Homo sapiens: one gene and its partners. The gene in region 1 interacts genetically with each later gene. Each region holds a gene or a part of one and is shown on either strand. Other genes may lie near its edges. The genes, in order: RBM17, CTNNBL1, PPP2R2A, TIMELESS, CENATAC, LEO1 and UBA2.

What was found.
Region 2: changes in RBM17 (region 1) and CTNNBL1 together harm fitness more than expected from each alone (negative genetic interaction), as found in Homo sapiens cells (one large-scale study listed by BioGRID).
Region 3: changes in RBM17 (region 1) and PPP2R2A together harm fitness less than expected from each alone (positive genetic interaction), as found in Homo sapiens cells (one large-scale study listed by BioGRID).
Region 4: changes in RBM17 (region 1) and TIMELESS together harm fitness more than expected from each alone (negative genetic interaction), as found in Homo sapiens cells (one large-scale study listed by BioGRID).
Region 5: changes in RBM17 (region 1) and CENATAC together harm fitness more than expected from each alone (negative genetic interaction), as found in Homo sapiens cells (one large-scale study listed by BioGRID).
Region 6: changes in RBM17 (region 1) and LEO1 together harm fitness more than expected from each alone (negative genetic interaction), as found in Homo sapiens cells (one large-scale study listed by BioGRID).
Region 7: changes in RBM17 (region 1) and UBA2 together harm fitness less than expected from each alone (positive genetic interaction), as found in Homo sapiens cells (one large-scale study listed by BioGRID).

What each region holds. Positions count from the first base shown.
Region 1 is NC_000010.11:6,113,034-6,115,490, reverse strand, and holds part of RBM17 (splicing factor 45), read right to left. Parts: intron 1,984-2,457; coding exon 1,910-1,983; intron 1,443-1,909; coding exon 1,344-1,442; intron 253-1,343; coding exon 180-252; intron 39-179; coding exon 1-38. UniProt on the Homo sapiens protein: Splice factor that binds to the single-stranded 3'AG at the exon/intron border and promotes its utilization in the second catalytic step. Involved in the regulation of alternative splicing and the utilization of cryptic splice sites.
Region 2 is NC_000020.11:37,865,030-37,868,529, reverse strand, and holds part of CTNNBL1 (beta-catenin-like protein 1), read right to left. Parts: intron 1-3,500. UniProt on the Homo sapiens protein: Component of the PRP19-CDC5L complex that forms an integral part of the spliceosome and is required for activating pre-mRNA splicing.
Region 3 is NC_000008.11:26,361,008-26,364,507, forward strand, and holds part of PPP2R2A (serine/threonine-protein phosphatase 2A 55 kDa regulatory subunit B alpha isoform), read left to right. Parts: coding exon 1-144; intron 145-1,676; coding exon 1,677-1,841; intron 1,842-2,713; coding exon 2,714-2,883; intron 2,884-3,500. UniProt on the Homo sapiens protein: Substrate-recognition subunit of protein phosphatase 2A (PP2A) that plays a key role in cell cycle by controlling mitosis entry and exit. Involved in chromosome clustering during late mitosis by mediating dephosphorylation of MKI67.
Region 4 is NC_000012.12:56,418,427-56,421,926, forward strand, and holds part of TIMELESS (protein timeless homolog), read right to left. Parts: coding exon 3,473-3,500; intron 3,384-3,472; coding exon 3,301-3,383; intron 3,068-3,300; coding exon 2,925-3,067; intron 2,709-2,924; coding exon 2,537-2,708; intron 2,456-2,536; coding exon 2,387-2,455; intron 2,262-2,386; coding exon 2,143-2,261; intron 1-2,142. UniProt on the Homo sapiens protein: Plays an important role in the control of DNA replication, maintenance of replication fork stability, maintenance of genome stability throughout normal DNA replication, DNA repair and in the regulation of the circadian clock.
Region 5 is NC_000011.10:119,011,638-119,015,137, forward strand, and holds part of CENATAC (centrosomal AT-AC splicing factor), read left to right. Parts: intron 1-301; coding exon 302-366; intron 367-511; coding exon 512-617; intron 618-1,594; coding exon 1,595-1,625; intron 1,626-3,356; coding exon 3,357-3,446; intron 3,447-3,500. UniProt on the Homo sapiens protein: Component of the minor spliceosome that promotes splicing of a specific, rare minor intron subtype. Negative regulator of centrosome duplication.
Region 6 is NC_000015.10:51,951,279-51,954,778, reverse strand, and holds part of LEO1 (RNA polymerase-associated protein LEO1), read left to right. Parts: intron 1-203; coding exon 204-298; intron 299-1,515; coding exon 1,516-1,650; intron 1,651-2,799; coding exon 2,800-2,935; intron 2,936-3,500. UniProt on the Homo sapiens protein: Component of the PAF1 complex (PAF1C) which has multiple functions during transcription by RNA polymerase II and is implicated in regulation of development and maintenance of embryonic stem cell pluripotency.
Region 7 is NC_000019.10:34,438,381-34,441,880, reverse strand, and holds part of UBA2 (SUMO-activating enzyme subunit 2), read right to left. Parts: intron 3,237-3,500; coding exon 3,115-3,236; intron 1-3,114. UniProt on the Homo sapiens protein: The heterodimer acts as an E1 ligase for SUMO1, SUMO2, SUMO3, and probably SUMO4. It mediates ATP-dependent activation of SUMO proteins followed by formation of a thioester bond between a SUMO protein and a conserved active site cysteine residue on UBA2/SAE2.

The DNA of each region.
Region 1 (2,457 bases):
CCGTCCACCAAAATACCTCCCATTCAAGTCAACAACCGCTGAAAGGCAAACAAAAGACAGTTAATACAGGTATCCTATAAGATAAAGGTTTAACTTTAATTAAACAGTAACTTTACTTGTAAAGATTAAGGCTGTAAATTCAACTTTTTTATTCTTTAATATTTAGCTGTACCACTAACCTTTAATTGCTGATTCAACTCTCTCAAATTCTAAAAATATCCGTACTGCTTCATCATCAGGGGCACCAGGAATCTGGAAGAAAATGAGAGCGTGATGAGTAAAGGCATTTGAGATTGCATTGAATGAGTTTTCTCTTTTAAATGATTTCTCAGAGTGGATATTCTAATTATCATCATATACAGTCAAGTAGTTGTCAAATACCAAGGAAATAAGTATAATTTGTTCATCATCAAAAACGTACTGAATGCCTGTTTTTATGACAGGCATTGTTAGGTGCCAGGAACACAGGGCTAGGCAGTCTCTGACCTCATAAAGGCCCTGTGCCAGCTGATGACGTAAACAAATAATTATGTGGTCAACAAACAGCAACAGGATAAAGAAACAGAGGAAGCAGAGCTTTCAGATTAAAAAGGCTGGTGCCCTAGTGGCCTTTCACATCAGGTCTCATTTTGACTAGCTCTGTCTAGCTTTCCTAGCCCTCTGTAATTCCACCCACCTAAGCACTTCTGCTAATCCCCAACAGGCCCATCCATTCCATTTTGGTAGTCCTGATCTTCACTGTCTCCTACGAGCCATTATCCCAATCAGAATACCCTTCCCTGCAAATCCCACCTGTTCGTTTCAAAGCGCAGCCCATATCTGCTATTGCTCACAAGGCAGTCTATTTTTTCACTGATCTAATCCTTTTCTCAACTCCTGAACTTAGTCAATACTACCTAGTCTAGTAACTGAATATCTTTCAGTTATTTTATGTGTTTCTTCAACTGAACACACCACTGAGAGTACAGAGCATGCTTCCTGTAATCCAAGTGCTCTCCGCACAGTGCAGTGCATGTGAGAGGCACTAAATACTCACCAAATGACTGAAACCAAAGGCATGTCTAAGGAACTAAACTACTGAGCACGCTAGAATCAAGGTCTTCAGTCATCATACTGATCCTCAATCATGAAGCATTCCTGTTTCTTCATCAAATAAAACTTGAAATCATTGTCTTTATGTTTAAAACTGTAATAATTGAGCAAGAGAAGTACAAATAACCAACGCCTGTCACCTTCTGCAGTAAGAATGTTACTTATAGCATACCCTGTCCTGTTTGTAGAAAATGTTTTGTAATGTGCCAATTACAACTTGTGTTATAAACATCAAAAGAAAACACTCTTACTTCAAATATCACACATTTTCCAACTTTGCCATATTTTTCACATTCTTCCTTGGTTTCAACTTCCAAGTCTTCATCCACCTCTCCCGCACCAACCATGTTCTTTAAACACAAAAATAAACAAATTCAAGTACCAAGTATAACTTACAAACACCTAGCAGAGGTATATAAATATGACTTAGTGATGGTAAATGTTCTCAATCCCAAACGACATAATGAAAAATTTCATCCCCAAAGTACCCAAAAGTTAGTATTTCTTAAAACACTAAAACATATATTAAGCCTGTAAAGAGTTACAAAAGCATCTATGCAAGCACCAAAATGTATAAACTATCTGAAGCTCTAGCAATTTCAAATATTTAATTACTCACTGCAGTCTTAAACACTGTACTTAGCAAAGAGACTTACACATTAGTGAAAAATCTAAAATCAGCCTTACGTGGGATCTGCCCAAAGTATTATTTGCAAAAGTATCATTTTCAGTTTTAACTTTTAGGGGGAGCAGGGTAGGCTGGGGTGACACACACAAATCTAGGCAGGCAGAGAGCTTGCTTTCCTCAGCTTCTTACCCTTAGTAAGACCACTTTAGTAGGACACTTAAGTATTTCAGTCAGCGGATTTGAATCTGACTTCTTGGATGCATCTGTATCAAAACATACCATTAGATGTGTTACAGAACTGAGCAGCATATCATTAGATGTGTTACAGAACTGAGTCCTACTTACAATAATTAATTTAATTTCAATAGCGATCCCCACCATTTATGTCCTAGGCATCTACACAATTGGTCTCTGAGCGAAAACACAGCCTTATCTGCAATAAAAGCCTCTGCTTTGCTTTGGCATGTTTTTACAATAGCATCTGGATGTTTTGAGCCTCCACCATTACTTGCAATTTTTGCTCATCTCACTTCCCAAAGGGCTGACAGGGCATGTGAGTGATAATTCCTATAGGTGAGTTGACTTGGAGCAAACGTTCAAGGTCACGGGCCCAGGGGAATATGCAGTTACTAATCCAGCCACCGGCTGCCTTACTTCAGATAACCTCACAAGTCGGGACAACTGTTGGTTTCTGGCACTCACCTGTCAGGCTCGTGATGTATCCTAAGCTGTGCATG
Region 2 (3,500 bases), on another chromosome or scaffold:
CCTGTCCCATACAGAGCGGAGTGGAACTAACATGTGCTGTGCACTGCTATGTGCCTGCATTTTCTAGGTTGTCTCACATGTAACCTTTGCATCAATCTCACAAGGTAAAGAACACCATCCCTACTTACCCAGGGGGAAACAGAGGCTATCAGAGAACTGAAGCAACCCGCCCAAGTCTAGGATGTAGAGGAGCCGGAATTCAAACCTTGAAATGTGTGGATAGTAAAAAAAAAAAAGGCCCCTAAAAAACCACTGGGAGGGGGCCGGTCCTCACAGCAGCATCCTGTTACCTAAGCAACAGGCTACCCTGCCTGGCCCCTAGTCTTTGGGAAAAAAAACTCTGCTCTGTGAGCATTCCAAAACAGGAATGTCTTATGGTACAGTGGCCTCGGTGGCCAGGACAGATGTGGGTGGACTGGCTGGGGTCACCCTCTCTTATGCCAAGTTACCAAATATCAGAGTTGGAAGGGTTCTCAGAAATTTATTGCAGCCCTGAGGGGGCACGTGGATGGCCAGGGTCCCACAGTGAGCCGGCCACGGAGCCAGGCCCAGAACCAGGTCCGACGACCCGGCCTAGTACTCATCCACTGGCCTAGTGCTCATCCACTGCCCGGGGAAGCTGCACCCTCAGGCACCTCAACCTCACCCTTTGCCCTTGCTCATTCTTTGTTTCTATGGCAGAGTCCTATTTAGAGCAAATCTTGGTGGTGCCAGCTACCTCTGGTTATTACAGCTGCTGCAGCAGTTTAAATATTGAACAGAGTCCTCCCAGAGGTCTTGGGAAAGAGTTCTCTCTGCTGCATGTGTGTGTGCGTGTGTGCGTGTGTGCATGTGTATGTAAGAGGAAAAGAGACTGCAGGATGAGGGGAGAGGGAGAAAAGGATGAGGGGAGAGAGGGAAGAGGCTAAGTCAGTGGAGAGTGAGAAAGACGGCATACACGTCAACTCCTTTCTCTACTTCCCCCACATTTTCAAATGCTCTTATAATAAAGGCTTTGATGGAACTCAGAAACAGGCAGCAGTGCTGAACGCATAAATATTAAAGCAAACTTTAGACAGCAGGTTTACTATTCAGACATGGAATACAAGCTGTTCTGTTTATGTTGAGAGGGAGAGGGAGGGGGCACTGGGGCTGGTGGATGGGGAAAAGTCGTCTTCCAGGGCGGAGACCTGGATGAGTATTCACAAGCCTGGTTCAGATCCATGAACCTTAAGCCTTACATGTTCACCTTTTTAAAAATGCAGGAGGAAGAGGGAGGAGAGAGGAGGAATGCCCAATATTTTCACATTGAAAACCCTTGAAGATGTACATATAACCACAAAATAGAAACTGAGAAAGGAAAATCCTTCAGGTCTAACAGAGATTCCTTGACAACAACAATGAACTTGGAAGGTTGAAAGTTGCGCTTCTCCAGAAGTAGAATATTTTGCTAGGCAGTAGGTTCTCATTTCATCAGGGATGCCATTCAAATGAAACCCACTTACAGAGAAAGACCCTTGCTCTTGCTTACAATGCCAATGGTCATGTTCTCAGAGTCCCATGGATGTTTTACACAGTTGGAAAAGCACCCACTGACAACCACCCACCCCCACAAGGCCCCGGGGAAGTCGAGCCTGTGTGCTGGTCCCTGCTTTTCCTGGTGGCATCTCAGTCCAAGCTGCTGCTAACTCCAGGCGAAAGGATTAGGTCAAGGAAGGAAGGAACTTCCATTTACTGAGTATGTAACTTGGTCCCAGGCACCCAACTGCATTTTAACTTTGGAGGCTTCCTGAGAGAGGCAATATTTATTTTAGGTGTTTTTTTCTTTGTGTTTTTTACAGAGGAGGAAACCAAGACTTAAATATGTTACCTACTAACTTGCCCAGAGTTACATGGAGATCCAGAATTTATGTTGGTCTGAGCATCTCTGTTCCTGGGTGAGCTTGGACACTAATTATAACAATAAAGACAGCTAACATGTAACAGGCACTTTCTTCTAGGTGCCAGCCACCATGCGAGCACTGTACATACAGCACTTCACCTCATTCTCACAGCAGCCTTCTGAGACAGGTTCTCCCCATCTTACAGATGCAGGAGCTATGGCTTGGAGAGGGGAAGAGCTGCCTGAGGTCAGACACTAGAAAGCGACAGAGCTTGCTTGTGAACCTGGGCAACTCACTGCAGGCTCCATGGTCTTAGCACAGTTGGTTCTCCAAGAGTGGTTCCCCCCGACCCCTGCATACCACCACCACACTACCCCGGGCAGCGCTTCCCGAGAGCCCTCTTGGGTGAACTGGGTGTGAGGCCCGGGGGCAGCAATCCTAAGGCAAATGTGACATCTTTGCTGAAAAGCTCTTGAGGTGTCCTTAAGATGCCTCTGAGCCTTGTCAAGGCCGCTGGCTACAGGGCTAACATACAGGCCTCTCTCCATGATCCTTTCCTGCCTCCAAATACCCTGTGGGACACCGTATCCATGACCAGGCGCAAGCCACGCACATGCCAACATGTCATCCAAAGATAAATCCTATCAGCCTCTGCAGCTTTAAAATCACACAAATTGGGTTACCAAGAGCCCCAAATCAATATGGAAATACATGTTTATGAGCTACTAGGAGGAGATTTTAAACCATAAAGAATACTCGCAAATCAAAGGGCCATGGGCCAAATTCTAAAAGCATTTAAGTTTCTGGCTCATTCTTTTCGCCCAGCAGTGAGAGAGTTTTGAGTCAGTAATCCTCTAAGATTTTCTCTGCAAACCAGCCACTGTGCAGTAGCCATGGCTGCTCCTGGGCATCTGTGTGGTCCTCCAACAACTTTCACCAGGAGACTAAAACATCGATAAGACTGGCCAGTGGCTTCCACTGCAACCCTTGGCACAAATATTTGTATTTCGAAGCATTCTCGGGTCACAGCTCCTACGCCACAGCCAAGGTGATGACTGCTCAACAATGCCCATGCGTAGCTGCCTGCGGAAACCCTTCCCATGCAGGCAGCCACAGAGACAGAATGCAGAATAGTGGCTGCCAGGGGCTGGGGGGAGGGAGGAACGGGCAATTCCAGTTTTGCAAGATGAAAAAAAGGCCTGTGGATAGATGGTAGTGATGGTAGTAATAGTCAAAACGATAAATTATTACTACAATAATAAAAAATAAAAAAGAAGCCATGCCTTCCGTACAGCTTCCCTGGATCTTTGGGCTCCTTTTCATGTCCAGCCGGATTAACTGTGAGTTAACTGTGCCGTCTTCATTCCCCTTGTACCTCTGCATCCCAGCACTGGCTCCATTCTGCTTTGCGCTATGGTCAGTCACCTCACTTGTGAGGGACGTATGCCTGTTGGGGACAGGGTCTCCTGAGTGTCTCACTTATCTTAGAAGCCTGCCTAGCACCCTGTGATGTCAAATTGGTGCTCTCTAAAGGTGAGTGCCCTGCATTTTTCTTCTCTCCTAAAAGCCCATAGGAGCATATGGGCCAATCAGCAGTTGGCACATTCCTTACCGCTGTGCATAGCTCCTTCTGAGTCT
Region 3 (3,500 bases), on another chromosome or scaffold:
AGGCCAGTCCACGAAGAATATTTGCCAATGCTCATACATATCACATCAACTCAATTTCTATTAATAGTGATTATGAAACATATTTATCTGCAGATGATTTGCGGATTAATCTTTGGCATCTGGAAATTACAGACAGGAGTTTTAGTATCCATTTGGTTTTCTTTGGTGTTTGGTGAAGAAGGCATGTTGTGCCCATATTAGATTTATTTCATCTCTCCTAATGAATTTGGTTGCTTTTTATAGTCTGTGTACATATATGTATGGCACCTTATTTTTTTCTTTGTAGATGAGTAATGAAATACTGGAAAAAGTTATTTGCTAAACATAAAGGGCATAATGTATTGATTTAAAATTGGATTCATGGAATTTTAAGGAATTTGTCTATTGTATCTATGTAAATAGGATTATTTTTTATAATTTAGGTTTTTGTTTTAAAAATCACATTTGTGAGGTCTGTGTATGGTAGCTTATGCCTGTAATCCCAGCGGTTTGGGAGGCTGAGGTGGGAAGATCACTTGAGGCCAGGAGTTCAAGGTTTACAGTGAGCTTGATTGTGCCTCTGCACTCCAGCTTGGATGACAGAGCAACACCCTGTCTCTAAAAAAATTTTTTTTCTTCTAATCAAATGTATGAACTACTGTATTTGAATTTTTTATTGTAAAAATAGTCTCACCTGGCTGCGGTGACTCAGCCTGTAATCCCAGCACTTTGGGAGGTCAAGGTGGGTGGATCACCTAAGGTCAGTAGTTCAAAACCAGCCTGGCCAACATAGTGAAACCCCGTCTCTCCTAAAAATACAAAACATTAGCCGGGCATGGTGGCGCATGCCTGTAATCTAAGCTACATGGGAGGCTGAGTTAGGAGAATTGCTTGAACCTGGGAGATAGAGGTTGCAGTGAGCTGAGATTGTGCCATTGCACTCCAGCCTGGGCAACAAGAGTGAAACTCTGTCTCAAAAAATATATATATATAGATTTATATATATTATATTAATTGATATTAAGATTAGATTAAGATTAGATTAAGATTAATCTTAAGATTAGATTAAGATTAATTTTAAGATTAGAAAAAGATTAATAATTAGATTAGATTAGAAAAAGATTAGAAAAAGAAAGATTAAAGATTACGATTAGATTAAGATTAGAAAAAGAAATTCACGCAAGTCATGATGCATGATTGGGTAAATAAAAATATTCTATTGAGGCCGGGCACAGTGACTCATGCCTGTAATCCCAGCACTTTGGGAGGCTGAGGCGAGGCGGATGGATCATGAGGTCAGGAGGTCGAGACCAGCCTGGCCAACATAGTGAAACCCCGTCTCTACTAAAAATACAAAAAAAAAAAAAAATTAGTCAGTTGTAGTGGTGTGCGCCTGTAATCCCAGCTTTTCTGGAGACTGATGCAGTAGAATCGCTTGAACCTGGGAGTCGGAGGCTGCAGTGAGCCGAGATTGCGCCACTGCACTCCAGCCTGGGTGACAGAGTGAAACTCCGTCTAAATAAAAATTAAAAAAAAAAGTTTTAATCCCTTTGGAATTTATACTCATAAAAACAGTGGAGTGCAATTCAGAATTAATATTTTTGCTTAGGTCCATGAATGGGTTTTAGGTTTGAGAAATGTAGAATTATATTTGCCCTTTTTTCTAAGTGGAAATTCCTTAATAAAATGTTATCTAGACATTGTGGATATCAAGCCTGCCAATATGGAAGAGCTAACAGAGGTGATTACAGCAGCAGAATTTCATCCAAACAGCTGTAACACATTTGTATACAGCAGCAGTAAAGGAACTATTCGGCTATGTGACATGAGGGCATCTGCCCTCTGTGATAGACATTCTAAATGTAAGTTTATTGTATCTTTCCTTAAAATGATTACATATTCTGTTTGTCTGAAATAAGCCTCAGACATGATAAGTACAATTACAGAGGTTCAAAGTCTTAAACCCGTGTGTCCAGAGCCACTTGTACCCTTGGTAATCTGCCTACCTCCTCATGAGGCATTCCAGGTTATTCCTGGAAGCTCTCTTGGGGGGCATGTCTATTGATTGCCAAGGAATATATCTCTCATGGAATGCTGTTGTTCTTTGGTAACTTGCGGTTGGGCTCTGTAACCTTGTATTGAAGTAGAGCTGTTCCTTTCTTTCCCATCCTCCCTTCCTACTTTGAGCTTCCTAGGAAGATTTCTTCTGAGGTTTCCTTGGCTTAAAAAAAAAAAAAAAAAAACAACTTTGGTTTAAAAACTTCAGGATACAATATTCTTGTCTTGTTGAATATTAACTCATGAAAATTGATACATGCCTGTTACCAAAATAATTTTACCTGGCTACTAGAAAATAAGATCCTGGTATGAATTTGGGATGGGCGAGGATGGTGTGTTTCTCATGGTGATGATACAGGCAGTCAGTGAGGCATATTGCAGGAATAATACCAATAAACCTGGTGCACTGAAGTCAGAAGTCCCAGGTGAGTCTGGTTCTAAATTAGTCATATGACTGGAAGTATACTGCATACTTATGCATCTTCAACTTCAATATTCAATTAAACTAAGAAGCTTTCAGGAGAATTCTAGCCAGAGAGATGTTTTTCAGTTCTTTATTAGCCTGGCATTTTACCTCACTTGTAGGGAGTTTGTGAATGGTTGTTTAGGAAATGCTTTGTCCAAGCCAGAATATTGTACACCTTGCCCTTTTTGTGTTGTTTTGTTTTGTTTTTAGTGTTTGAAGAACCTGAAGATCCCAGTAACAGGTCATTTTTTTCCGAAATCATCTCCTCTATTTCGGATGTAAAATTCAGCCATAGTGGTCGATATATGATGACTAGAGACTATTTGTCAGTCAAAATTTGGGACTTAAATATGGAAAACAGGCCTGTGGAAACATACCAGGTATTTGAGTTTTTTCTTTCAATGAGCATATACCCTGTTTACTTTGAAGTGTTTATAGAGAAGGATTTTGTTACTAGGTTTTAATCCCTGTATGGTGTTTGTTCACCATTAGGCCTTTTCCCTCAGAGATCTATGAGTATGTTGCTCTTCCTTATGTTAAATGTATATATACTTACATAGGTTGTGTTGTCTCTTGAGTTTTGCAGTTAAAGTGTGATTTTGCTACCCATTTGGTTCAGTATTGACATTGTTTTTTTTTCTGCCACTATGTACATTTAAAGTGAGGATGGAAGAGCACCCTTCATTGAGGTCTGGGCAGGAAGAGGATTGGAGAAAGTGGCCAGTCCTTAGTAGAGGTGCACCTGCTCAGGTTGTGGGAGTAGTTGAACTAGAGATTAAATTTGGTGTGCCAAGTCAAATGGACTGGTGTTCTGCCTTTTGGCAGATAACTGTTGTCTTCAGCTAAAAGAAAGGGCTTGAAAGCCTTAGCAGATGGCTTTAGGAGTTGCCTATCCGTTGTTGGATGTCAGTTCTTGATTCTCTTATCAGCCAGCCACTACTGTTTATCCGTGTCCACTACATCAAACAGAAGAGAATGAAGTACACAGCCTGGAACA
Region 4 (3,500 bases), on another chromosome or scaffold:
GAATATATATGACCCAATATTGGTGAAGATCCACAAGGGTTGTGAACTCTATTTATTATAATACTTACTATCTAATATATACCCAGTGCCTAGCACAGTGCCTGCTACATTAGGAGGTTCCCAGTTATAGGTTTTTTTGGTTGTTCTTTTTTTTTTTTTTTTTTTAAATGAGAAGGGGTCTGCCTCTGTCACTCAGGCTGAAGTGCAGTGGCACAATCATGGTCCACTGTAGTCTCGATCTCTTGGGATCAAGCTATCCTCCTGCCTCAGCCTCTCAAGTAGCCAGGACCACAGGGGTGCATGCCACCATGATGCCCAACTACTTAAAATTTTTTGTAGAGACAGGGTCTTGCTGTGTTGCCCAGGCCAGTCTCAAACGATCCTCCCACCTCAGCCTCCCAAAGTGCTGGGATTACAGGCATGAGCCACTACACCTGGCTATAGTTGTCAATTGAATAAATAAATAAATAAATAAATCCTGGGGATGTAAAGGTGAATCAGGTATGATCCTTGCTATCAAATAACTCACAATCCAATGGGAAAAAGAACAAATGTACTGTAGTATCACAGGATTTTTTTTTTTTTCTTTTTGAGGCAGAGTCTCACTCTGTTGCCCAGGCTAGAGTGCCGTGGCAAAGCAATAAAGGCTCACCCTCCTGGGTTCAAGCAATTCTCCTGCCTCAGCCTCCCAAGTAGGTGGGACTACAGGTGCCTACCACCACACCGGGCTAATTTTTGTATTTTTAGTAGAGACAGGGTTTTGCCATGTTGGCCAGGCTGGTCTTGAACTCCTGACCTCAGGTGATCCGCCTGCCTCAGCCTCCCAAAGTGCTGGGGTTACAGGCGTGAGCCACCATACCCAGCAGATTCCACAGGATTAAGGCTGCATCAGGGGCATGAACAAATCACAGCTGCAAAAGTGATTATTTTTACTTCAGGGGTTGAAAGAATGACAAGGACTGCTTCTCTGACAAGGTGACAATTGAGCAGACTCTTGAAGACTGGGTAGAGGTCCATCAGTAAGACAGATGGAGTGTGTGTGTGTGTGTGTGTGTGTGTGTCACCCTGTGTGCACGGTTGCAGCCTTCCAATAGAGGGACTGGCATGATTAACCATTTGGAGGCATGAAAAAGCCTACCAGGGTGACTATGATGTAAAGTCGGTGTGTGAGTGGTGTGGCTGTGAGGCTGCAAAGGTTGGCCAAGGATGGGGATGCCATTTGGAGTTTGTGGATTCTGTCCTGCAAGCAGTAAGGAACCATCAATGGCTCTGGACAGAGGACTTGACCCTCCATATCCACAAGTTCTGAGTCTGTGGATTCAAACCACTGTAGATCGACAATATTAAAAAAAAATAACAATACAACATTAAACAATAATACACAGCCTGGGCAACATGGCATAACCCCATCTCTACAAAAAATACAAAAAATTAGCTGGGAGTGGTAATATAGGCCTGTAGTCCCAGCTACTCAGGAGGCTGAGGTGGGAGGATCACCTGAGTCTGGGAGGTTGAGGCGACAGTGAGCTGAGACTGAGCCACTGCACTCCAGCCTGGGTGATGGAGTGAGACTCTGTCTCAAAAAAAAAAAAAAAAAAAAAAAATATATATATATATATATATGTGTGTGTGTGTGTGTGTGTGTATATATATATATATAAATAAAATGTATATATATATATTTACAATACAGTATAACAATTATTTACCTAACATTTACATTGTATAGGTATTATATGTAATCTAGAAATGACGAAGTATACAGGTTGTACCTAGGTTATTTACAAATACTACAAAAAGGGACTTCAGCATCTATAGATTTTGGTATCTGTGGGCAGGGGGGTCCTGGAACCAATCCCCTCTCAGACACTAAGGGACAACTGTAATCAAGACTATATTTTAAAAAGATAAATCTGGAGGCAGTCTGGAAGATGGATCTAGGGGAAGGGGAGATTAGAGAGAGGAAAAGAAGACTAGCAGAATGGCTGCTGCAGGAATCTTGGTCAGAGATGACAAGACAATGAGAAGGACCAAGATGACGATAAGGATAAGGAGGACCACCATGACAGTGAGGAGGAGGAGGAGATGTATTTGGAAATAGGACTAACACGCCTTGGTTGACACTGTAACTGACATATTTACCTGCCCAGAGGCAGGGGGCCGAACCCCTAGCTTGCGCAACAGCTGCTGAAACTGTTCGTTTTCCATGGCTTCCTCATTTTCCTCTGTGAGTGGCACCAATGGAACGGCCTGGGAGCAGCCTAAGACAGGGTCAATAGTCATATGGTGAAGATATAAGGGAAGAACTGGTTCTCCATCCCATGACCAGGTAGGTCTCCAATAGCCTCCAGGGCTCTTCTCCTAAAAGTGTCACCTGTCCACTCACCATCCTCTTCCCGATCATCAGCTGCTCGGATCAGGCAGTTCTGGAGCCATAGGAGCGGGATAGAAAAGCCTAAGGAAATGAGGGAAACTTACATTTGACCCTACTCCCAAGCCCTCCACCTGAGACATCTCTCCCAGCCAAAGTCCTCACCTTCCTGATGCAGGCTTTGACCAAGGTTTTCATTTGAAAGGACTAAGCTACCCTGGACTTGTTCTGCTTCTGAGCCCCCTTCTTCTTCCTCTTCGCTGTCTTCCTCAGGCAGGTTTTCCTCTTCTTCCAGATCTTCCTGGCAAAAATCTTTCAGGGACTCCGCTCCATTTGGCTAAAATTCATTGGGGGTTGGGGGAATGAAAATGAAGGCAACACAAGGAACTTAGTGGAGTCTCCTCGTTCCTGACCACCGCACCCCCCCGCGCCTGCTCTCTCGGAAGGACCTGGTCAGAACAGCCTCAGGCAGGAAGAATCCAGGTGGACTGCTCCTAAGGACCACTTCAAGGGAAGTGAGCCCATGCCAGCAGAGCTAGGGTCAGATTGTTACCAAGATGGAGGATGCCAACTTTTTCTGCCGTTTCTTGTACAGCTCCCGCCGCTCAGCCACCAGCCCCAGAGCCAAGAGTTTATCCACTATTCGGGCCCGTGAGCGTTTGGCTGTGATATTCTTCATGATATGACCCAGGACATCTATAAAAAGCAAGCATGTGAATACCCAAGGGTAACAGGGAAAGAGATGAGTAAAATAAATCAGAGGTCTCTGGAAAGAGGGTACCTCAATTCATCCAAAAATGACACTTACAAATATAGTAAGTGAACAGAAGGGATGGGAGAATCTTTCCTTGGGAATAAAAGGCAGCCCCAAAATAAATGGATAGCTTGGCTTTCATCTCAAAGGTCCCCTGAGTTTCCAGCTTACTCACCATCTGAGTCCCGGAATTCCTCAAAAAGCCGCTGCAGCTCCAACTCCTGATCCCCCGTCCACAGTACAATATGGGTTCCTTTCCTGATTAGGAAGGTGTCAGTGGAAGAGGAAGCCCAGGAAGTGATCACGAGTCCCCATCCCAATAGCCTCCAGAGCATGTGCCTCTCTACCTTTGGAAGTCCTTGACACTGTCAGCCA
Region 5 (3,500 bases), on another chromosome or scaffold:
TGGAATTACAAGCATGAGCCACTGTGCCCGGCCATGAACCAGTGCTTCTAAGAGAACTCTGACTGCATTCTCATCTGCTTGGCTTGAATTCCCTTACCTGTGTGCCAGGGGGCAGGCCTAGTCAGTGAATATGTGGACAGGACTGGGAGGGAGGGAGGGAAGAGTCTGTAAAAGATGGGCAGTACCTTCCATATGCTAATTTGTTTCCTTCCTGTGATACTGGGGTCTGGAGGGTGGAGGCATGGCCTAGGCAGGCTCTTAAGCATCCCAGACACATTTATTTTTCCTGAATCAAACTCAGCCTCAGGCAGTGCCAGACCCAGAAGAGGGCTCTTCAGCACCTAGAAGCTGGAAAGGGATGAACAGGTAAGACTATTAGGGAATCTCTTGTTGGGAATTTGACATCTTAGAACATTCTGCAACCTTTTGCCTGGGAAATGGAAACAGATCTAATCTTTACCACCCTCATGGCTCAAGGACCTCATCTGGCAGCCTGGCTCATGTTTTTCAGCCAAGTAGCTTCCAGCTTACAGCAGCCCTCAAATTTGGACCTGCCACCAGCTCCAGAGCTTGACTGGATGGAGACAGGACCATCTCTGACATTCATTGGCCATCAGGTACAAAGGATAAGCAAGCCAGAAGAGGGCCAATGGTCCCTCAGGTCTCAGGACCCCTTTCTCCTGATTTTCTACCTATTCAAGCCACTGCTGCCTCCACTGCAGGCTTTTCCTTCTTCCTTCACTGTTCCCTAGTAGTGTTCTCAGACCTCTTCTCACCCTCCAAAGCGATCCTATTCACATGTATTGACACTTAGGAGTGCCAACTCCTAAATCTTGCCCTCTGTAGAACTCATAGTTCCAACTCAACACAGGACATTAAATATCCCACAGGCATCTGAAACTAACCCCCACCACTCCTATATTTCCAATCACTAGATGCAGATCCTTTCCTTTTCCATCTCCCATATCCTGTCAACAAGCGGTCAATTTTAACCTGTCTGCCTCCATTCAGCCTTTGGGCAATTTCTACTCCCCCTTCAATCCTGCCTCACAAACAGAAAATCATTGTACCACTTATGATTTTACTCTACACTTCAGCTGTATTGTGTTGCTTCGGGCTTTTGCAGTTGCCATTGTCTAAAACCTGCTTTCCTTCCCTCATCACCTAGTTTACCTTCAACTGTTAGCTCAAATGTCACTTTTTCATAAAAGGCTTATCTGAACAGGTTATCTCTATTTCAAGTGGATGTAGCACCATGTAAAGTTGCAAATGTAATTTACGTAACTTGTGCTTAATGCTCTTCCCCAATTATATGTATGCTGTGAGGGCAAGGTTTTGCTCCCCTGGCATGTAATAGCCACTCTACTTACAGACATCTCCACTGTTATGACTGTGAGCTTCCTGAGGACAGGGTTGTCTTAGAGTGACTTACTGTGCTTTCAAAGTTTAACATCAGCTGGGGTGCAGAATTAGCATTGTGGCAGCAGTCACACCCACCTCTTTTAAAGTGTGCTTTGTCTATCGTTTCTAGGATTTTTTTTTTTAATCATGCCTAGACTTTAACTAGCACTTTTTTTCCCATTTCCAACTACAGGATATACCAGGAGTTGGTAACATCCACTCAGGTAAGGTCCAGGGCAGTGTTTTTAAAACCCTGGGAGATTTTTTTTTTTTTTTGAGATGGAGTCTTGTTCTGTCGCCAGGCTGGAGTGCAGTGGCGCAATCTCAGCTCGCTGCAACCTCTGCCTCTCAGGTTCAAGTGATTCTTCTGCCTCAGCCTCCCAAGTAGCTGGGGTTACAGGTGTGCACCACCACACCCAGCTAATTTTTTTTTTTTTTTTTTTGAGACGGAGTCTCGCTCTGTCGCCCAGGCTGGAGTGCAGTGGCGGGATCTCGGCTCACTGCAAGCTCCGCCTCCCGGGTTCACGCCATTCTCCTGCCTCAGCCTCCCAAGTAGCTGGGACTACAGGCGCCCGCCACTACGCCCAGCTAATTTTTTGTATTTTCAGTAGAGACGGGGTTTCACCGTTTTAGCCGGGATGGTCTCGATCTCCTGACCTCGTGATCCACCCGCCTCGGCCTCCCAAAGTGCTGGGATTACAGGCATGAGCCACCGTGCCCGGACTTTTTTTTTTTTTTTAAATAAAGTTGGCCAAGATAAAGCGTATGTATCGGTAAAAGCCTTATATCCAGAATATATGAAGAACTGTCAACTTGATAAGGAAACAACCCAATAAAAGCATATGAATAATGTTCAACATTAGTCATTAGAGAAATGCAAATTAAAACCACAGTGAAATACCACTACATATGTATTGGAATGGCAGAAATTAAAGACTGATCATGCCAAGTGTTTGGCAGTGTAGAAAAACCAAACCTTCATACACTGCTCTTAGAATGTAAACTGGTACAGTCACTTTGGAAAACAGTTTGGGATACACCTACCACATTATCCAACCGTTCCACCCCTAACTAGAGAAAAGAAAGCCTGTCTACATAGACTTGTACACAAATCTTCAGAACAGCTTCACTTGTAGCAGCTCCAAATTGGAAACAATTCAGATGTCTATCAACAGGCAAATGGATTAACAATGGAATAGTATTCCAGGATGAAGACAGAATTATTGATACGTACGACACAGATGAATCTCAGAAGTCCAGACCTGGCCGGCGTGGTGGCTCATGCCTGTAATCCCGACACTTTGGGAGGCCAAGGCAGGCGGATCACGAGGTCAGGAGTTCAAGACCAGTTTGGCCAACATGGTGAAACCCCATCTCTACTAAAAATTCAAAAATTAGCTGGGCATCGCAGCGCACGCCTGTAATCCCAGCTACTTGGGAGGCTGAGGCAGAATTGTTTGAACCGAGACCTGGGAGGCGGAGGTTGCAGTGAGCTGAGATTGTGTCCAGCCTGGGCTAGAGCGAGACTCCTCTCAAAAAAACAAAAGGCCAGACCCCACCTCAATGTCCACACACAGAAAATCCTAAAAAATACAAACCAATAAAGCAACTGAAAGATCACCGATTGCCTGGACATGAAAATATTTTAATGGGGGCAGTGATACTTACAGGGGGATGTTTGGGGTCTAGATTGTAATGGCTTCGCTCAAAAGTCACCAAATTTAAGTGTGTATCGTTTATGTCAGTTGTGCCTCAAAGCCATTTTAAAATGACTGTCACATATGGGGTATGTCGCTTTAAATTAGCCTAGGGCCTTCTAAAGCTCCAGAATTCCTGGGCTTTGCTTTTAGACATTTCTAGCTCTTAATGAGGAGAGGTAAGCTAACAGCTAGGACATGTTTCACAATAGCCTGAAGACTTAAAAAAAAAAAAAAAAGCCTTAATTTTTTTTTCAGGTGCCACACCTCCCTGGATGATCCAAGATGAAGAATACATTGCTGGGAACCAAGAAATAGGACCATCCTATGAAGAATTTCTTAAAGAAAGTAAGTAAACTAATTCAAGAGAGGATCGTCTAAATCTTCACACTCAAAAATGGT
Region 6 (3,500 bases), on another chromosome or scaffold:
TTAAGCATATTTTTTTCCCTGCTTTTAATTTATCCAACCTCTCTAGGTGATTAAAGAGGGTTTCAGTGTTGTTCATTCTCCTGCCACACATACATCTGTCACCTCTGTATGCTTATTCTGTGATTATGTGCCTCTTGAGGAAAAACAAGATGCATAGAGTCATTTAAACTATAATTTTCTAAAGTACTTGTGTTGTGAAACAGGTAGAAAATACTATAAGATGGAGGATACGCCGAGATGAAGAAGGAAATGAAATTAAAGAAAGCAATGCTCGGATAGTCAAGTGGTCAGATGGAAGGTGAGCACAAAACGCCTGAAGGGTATTGACATACCCAGAACGGGTCAGAGGGATCAAGTTTTGAAATACTTTTTAGTTTTAAATTTATTATTAGTTTTAGAAATGGGGTCTCACTCTGTTGCCCATGTTGGAGTGTAATGACATGATAACAGCTCAGTGGAGCCTCAGACTCCTAGTCCTAAGTGATCCTCCCATCTCCCAAGTAGCTGGGACTACTTGGTGTGCACCACCCTGCATGGATTATTAAAAAAAAAAAAGAGCCAGGCACGGTGGCTCACGCCTGTAATCCCAGCACTTTGGGAGGCCGAGGTGGGTGGATCACGAGGTCAGGAGTTCAAGACCAGCCTGGCCAAGATGGTGAAACCCCATCTTTACTAAAAATTAGCTGGGTGTGATGGCGGACGCCTGTAATCCCAGCTACTCAGGAGGCTGAGGCAGAGAATTCCTTGAACCCAGGAGGCGGAGGTTGCAGTAAGCCGAGATCGCGCCACTGCACTCCAGCCTGGGCAACAGAACTAGATGCCGTCTCAAAAAAAAAAAAAAGAAAAAATTTCATAGACACAGTTCTCCATATGTTGCTTAGGCTGGTCTTGAACTCCTGGGCTCAAGCGATCCTCCCATCTCCCAAGTGCTGGGATTACAGGCGTCAACCACCGTGCCCAGCCACAAATTGACATTTTAAAAAAATTGCCCTTCACTGGGAATGTAGTAGAGCCTGGTAAACATCCCAGCATGTGTTAGTTCTTTGTAGTCCATCAGTTTTTCTCATTATGACTTCTTATTTTCGTTCCTTCCAAATTCTGTGTAAAAAGAGAGAGCAGCAGTTGAATCACCTGTTTTGTTTTGTTTTTTTTTTTCCTTGAGATGGAGTCTTGTCCTGTCGCCCAGGCTGGAGTGCAGTGGCACGATCTTGGCTCACTGCAACCTCCACTTCCCGGGTTCAAGCAGTTATCCTGTCTCAGCCTCCCGAAGGCTGGGACTACAGGGGTGTGCCTCCATGCCTAGCTGATTTTTGTATTTTTACCAGAGATGGGGTTTCACCATGTTGACCAGCCTTGTCTCAAACTCCTGACCTCGTGATCCACCTGCCTTGGTGTCCCAAAGTGCTGGGATTACACATGTGGGCCACTGTGCCCAGCCTGAATCACCTTTAAGTGAAGTAAGATGGTAGAGTGAAAGCTTTATGACTTTAATAGATGAAATGTTTCTCTTTCCAGCATGTCCCTGCATTTAGGCAATGAAGTGTTTGATGTGTACAAAGCCCCACTGCAGGGCGACCACAATCATCTTTTTATAAGACAAGGTACTGGTCTACAGGGACAAGCAGTCTTTAAAACGAAACTCACCTTCAGGTAACTGTTATTATTATTATGTATTATTTCTTATGGTAAAAGCAGTGAAACATAGATGTTTCTGTAATGCCTGCCACCTGATTGATGTAACCCCACGGTATGATTCAGCAAGAACCAAGATCTTGTGCATAGTTCTGAAGGTTCAAAGGTTATTTTGTCAAATACACTAAAAGTTGCTGTTTCTTAGGGAACCAGGTCATGCTAACCAGACTTACAAGAGACTGTTAGGTAAACCAGAATGTCAATGTATTTAATTCCAGTGGTTATTATAACTGCCAAGAGGCCTAAAATACGTGTGTCTGCTAGCCAGTGTGTCCTTTGTTTTTAGTAAAATTGACCTGGGAGACTAATAACTAGAGGTTGTTGTTGTGCATGCAATCGAAGGAAAGCCAGCAAGTTGGTCAGTGTGAGACGGGCCATCTCAGTGCCGTAGGCCCCGGCATCTAATACCACTGCAGAGGTGTGTCCCCCAAGAGGACAGGAATACTCAGCTGGTGAGGGCACTTTCCTTCTCTAGACTGAGTATGTGCTGCACTGAGATGTTCATGCTTCTCTTTCTTGATTATAAGCAGACCATCCTCTTTGGGTAATGCTTATCTTTAGAGGGGGCACAATAATGTTGGTTATGATTTAGCTTTTTGAAATTATAAAGGTTAACATACAGGCTTTGGAATCAGTTAGACTCATATTTGAATTCCATTTCTACTTGTGTGACCTTGTGCCACTTTCTTAACCTCTTTTTGCCTCAGTTTCCTAAATCTATAAAATAGGATAATTATATTAATATTAATATATTAATATTAATTAAAAGTAATGGCAAAAACCGCAATTACTTTTGCACCAACCTGTAGTATCTAATTAATGTTGCTTGAGCGTATCCATTTATTGCTTCTAGAAGGTGATCATGCCATACAATCTTTTTTACTCCAACCTTCTGTTTTTCATTTGTGGAATAAGAATGTCTCAGTGAGCCACAGAATGAAGAAAACTCACAATCTTCCACCTTGGTATATTCAGTCGAGTGTCTCTGCCTATTTTTTCAGGTGACTAGGAAATGGTCACTGGGCTCTTACTTCTGTGACGTGGGTATCACTGGCTCACAAATGTATTTGGTAAACAGTGATATGCTCTTCGTTTATTTCCTGGCAGACCTCACTCTACGGACAGTGCCACACATAGAAAGATGACTCTGTCACTTGCAGATAGGTGTTCAAAGACACAGAAGATTAGAATCTTGCCAATGGCTGGTCGTGATCCTGAATGCCAACGCACAGAAATGATTAAGGTATGTTTGCTAAGCCTAAGCGTTATCCTGGGATTCTTTGGTATATTAGGCAAGTATTTCCCAAAATGCTTGTTCGTCATCTCTTATTGGCCTACCTTTTCCTCTTCCAACTGACATGAATAGGGAGCTGGATTCATTTCCTCAGCATTTGCCAAACAATTGGTGACGTGGCAATGATAGTAAAACAGAAACAGGGCTCAGGTTCTCTCTTCACCAGGCCCTGAGAGTTCAGCAACAAACCGGTGATTGAAATATCTGAATTTTCATGTATAAGTTCAAAGATCATTAAGTCATCTATGTGTGGTTTAGAATCCATGTCAGAAGTCAGTGGAGATACTAGAGAGTAGTGTAAAATAGAGAATAGACCAGGAGTTTGAATGAGAGAGTGCCTAAAGTAGACTCTGGTAAAGAATAAGACGAGCTTATGAGTTTTTAAGGTCAATTTGTAACATTCTACCTGGTATATTTTCAAATTTGACCCAGCTGTTAATTAGGCACAAGTTTATTTGGGGCATTGTACCTAATCGATAGAGCATGTGCTCATATTGGCTATTGGCCTTTCCTG
Region 7 (3,500 bases), on another chromosome or scaffold:
AGCATGATCTCCATTCACTTCAACCTCCGCCTCCCAGGTTCAAGCGGCTCTCATGGCTCAGCCTCCCGAGTAGGTGGGACTACAGGCGTGTGCCACCACACCCCACTAATTTTTGTATTTTTAGTAGAGACAGGGTTTCGCCATGTTGCCCAGGCAGTTCTCAAACTCCTGGCCTCAAGTGATTCACCCACCTCAGCCTCCCAAAGAAAAAAAATGTTTGCCAAATAAATAAAGCTTCCAAGTGTAGTTTTTGTGAACATTTATCAAGTTGACACTGTTATGTATACTTTTCTGAGTGCAAAAATTAAAGACAATGTTTGCTGAAGGTTTCTACAAAATACCCTTTATCGGGTTGAGAACATTCTCATTTTAGTAAGAAGTTTTTTTATTTTTAATTTTATCTATTTATTTATTTTTTATTTTTTTGAGACGGAGTATCGCTCTGTCGCCCAGGCTGGAGTGCAGTGGTGCAATCTCAGCTCACTGCAACCTCCGCCTCCCGGGTTCACGCCATTCTCCTGCCTCAGCCTCCTGAGCAGCTGGGACTACAGGCACCCACCACCACATCCGGCTAATTTTTTTTATTTGTAGTAGAGATGGGGTTTCACCGTGTTAGCCAGGATGGTCTCGATCTCCTGACCTCGTGATCCGCTCGCCTCAGCCTCCCAAAGTGCTGGGATTACAGGCGTGAGCCACCTCGCCCGGCCTAGTAAGTTTTTATTCTGTTTTAGTAGAAACTTTCATCATGAAAGGCCATTTGCTAAATTTTACCAAATGCTTTCTCTGTATCTATGAAAACTATATAGTTTATCTTTAATTTCCTAATGAGTGAATGACATTTACAGATTTTCTAGTTTAAACCATGCTTGTATTCCTGAATAGACACGTGGTCAAGACACACTTTTTATTTTATATGATTCTAGATCCATATGGTAATTTTTTTTTTTTTTTTTTTGAGATGGAGTCTTGCTCTGTTGCCCAGGCTGGAGCGCAGCAGAGCGATCTCGGCTCACTGCAGCCTCCACCTCCCGGGTTCAAGCAATTCTCCTGCCTCAGCCTCCCAAGTAGCTGGGATTATAGGCGCCCACCACCATGTCCGGCTAATTTTGTATTTTTAATAGAGACAGGATTTCGCCATATTGGCCAAGTTGGTCTTGAACTCCTGACCTCAGGTGATCCACCCGCTTCAGCTTCCAAGTGCTGAGATTACAGGCATGATACACTGCGCCCATTCCCAGGATATGCTAATATTTTACATAGGATTTTTGCATCTATTATTTAGGTGTGAGACTGACTAGCAATTGTTTCTTATGCCATAATGGCCTTGACAGGTTTTGCTATCAAAGACATTGCTAGCCTAATAACACAAGCTAAGTAGTATTCCCTTTTAAAAATTTCTCAGGGAGAGTTTAGCTAATATTACAATATACTCCTTGCAAGTTTTGTGAAATGAATCTGTAAAAATAACATAGGTTCGGTGCATTATTTAGAATAATTTAAACTACTTACATTGCTCTAAGGTATACTGCTAAATTCAGGCATTCTATTTTCCTTTCATTTTTTTTTTTTTTTTGAAACATCATCTCATGCTGTCCCCCAGGCTGGAGTGCAGTGGCCCAATCTCCACCCACTGGGTTCAAGTGATTCTCATGGCTCAGTCTCCCAAGTAGCTGGGACTACAGATGCCCACCACCACGCCTGGTTAATTTTTGTATTTATAGTAGAGACGGGGTTTCGCCATGTTGGCCAGGCTGTTCTCAAACTCCTGGCCTCAAGTGACCCACCCACCTCAGCCTCCCAAAGTGCTGGGATTGCAGGCCTGAGCCACCGCACTGGGCACTTAGTAAGTTTTTAAAAATGTATTTACCCAGATCATTTAAATTTTTTATGTACTACCATGGTCTTATTATCATCCCTTTTTTTTCTTATAGCCTATTTAATCTCTGCTATCTGTATTCCCCGTTTAGTTCTCACTTACTCCTCTTCTATTTTGTAATCAAATGTGCTCTTACTTCAATTAATATCCTTCCTTCTCATTCTTTTTTTCTTTCTTTCTTCATTTTAAGACAGGATCTCACTATCACCCAGGCTGGAGTGCAGTGGCACTATCTCGGTTCACTGCAGCCTCAACCTCCCAGGCTCAACTGATCCTCCTACCTCGGCCTCCCAAGTAGCTGGGAGTACAGGTACACCTGGCTCATTTTTCTATTTTTTGTAGAGACACGGTTTTGCCATGTTTCCCAGGCTGGTCTCAAACTCCTGGGCTCAAGGGATCCTCCCATCTCACCCTCCCACAGTGCTGGGATTAGAGGCATGAGCCACCATGCCCACACCATTCTCATTTCTTAAAGTGTATTCTGTGGTTCATTTTCTAACTTAAATTGGATTCTTAGTAAAGATTTAGTAATTAATGTTCAGCCTTTCTTCATGTATGTAAATCTGTAACTTTTTGCCAACCACCACATTCAATACATTCTGGTATAGCATTTTCATCATTATCAGTACAGAGTATTTTTAACTTCCATTGTGATTTCTTTTATAACCAATGGGTTATTTGTAAGTAAATGTTCACATTTCCAAATATAAAGATTTTTATCGCTTAGTTACATGGCTGTCTCCAATATAAGACTAAGTTTCCTGAACAGTCATGGCCACATTTTTTTTTTTTTTTTTTGAGACAAATTCTCACTCTGTTGCCAAGCTGGAGTGCAGTGGCGCGATCTCGGCTCACTCCAACCTCCACCTCCTGGGTTCAAGCAATTCTCTTGCCTCAGCCTCCCGAGTAGCTGGGATTACAGGCACTCGCCATCACGGCCAACTAATTTTTGTATTTTTAGTAGAGATGTGTTTCACCATGCTGGCCACGCTGGTCTCAAACTCCTGCGCTCAGGTGATCCGACCACCTCAGTTTCCCAAAGTGCCGGGATTACAGGTGTGAGCCACCGCACCCGGCCAGCTACATTTAACCTAAGAAATACTGCAAGAAAGCTACTAAAGCATCCCTTCACCATATTTAAACATCCTGAGTTCAATCTCTTCAAGGTAATTAAATAAAAATGACTCCATTTTCCATCATCAGTACCGAAAAGCATGCCAAGAAATATACACTCTTACTTGAACAAGTACTTTGCCCAAACGATGCAATGTATAGGTTCTGAAGGTGTGTTACGAATTGTACAGCCAGGAAAGGTTCTCTGGGTCGGCTTAGGATGACACTCATAACACTCGGTCACACCCTATGAAGTCAGGATATGAGAAAAATTTACTCCATGATGGCAGTTTCTCAACATTATAAGGTAATATAAACACTTCATTCATCTATATTCCAACTACGTTTTACGTTGTCAAGGAAATTTTAAAATATTAGTGACTCCAAAATGCTTACTTTATGATAAACTAACACAAAAGCTAACTGAATCTACCAGTCATAGCTAAGGCTGTGCCAGGACGCCGACTCCTGGTTCAGTGAACATGACTTACAAGCCCAAATAAAAATTACT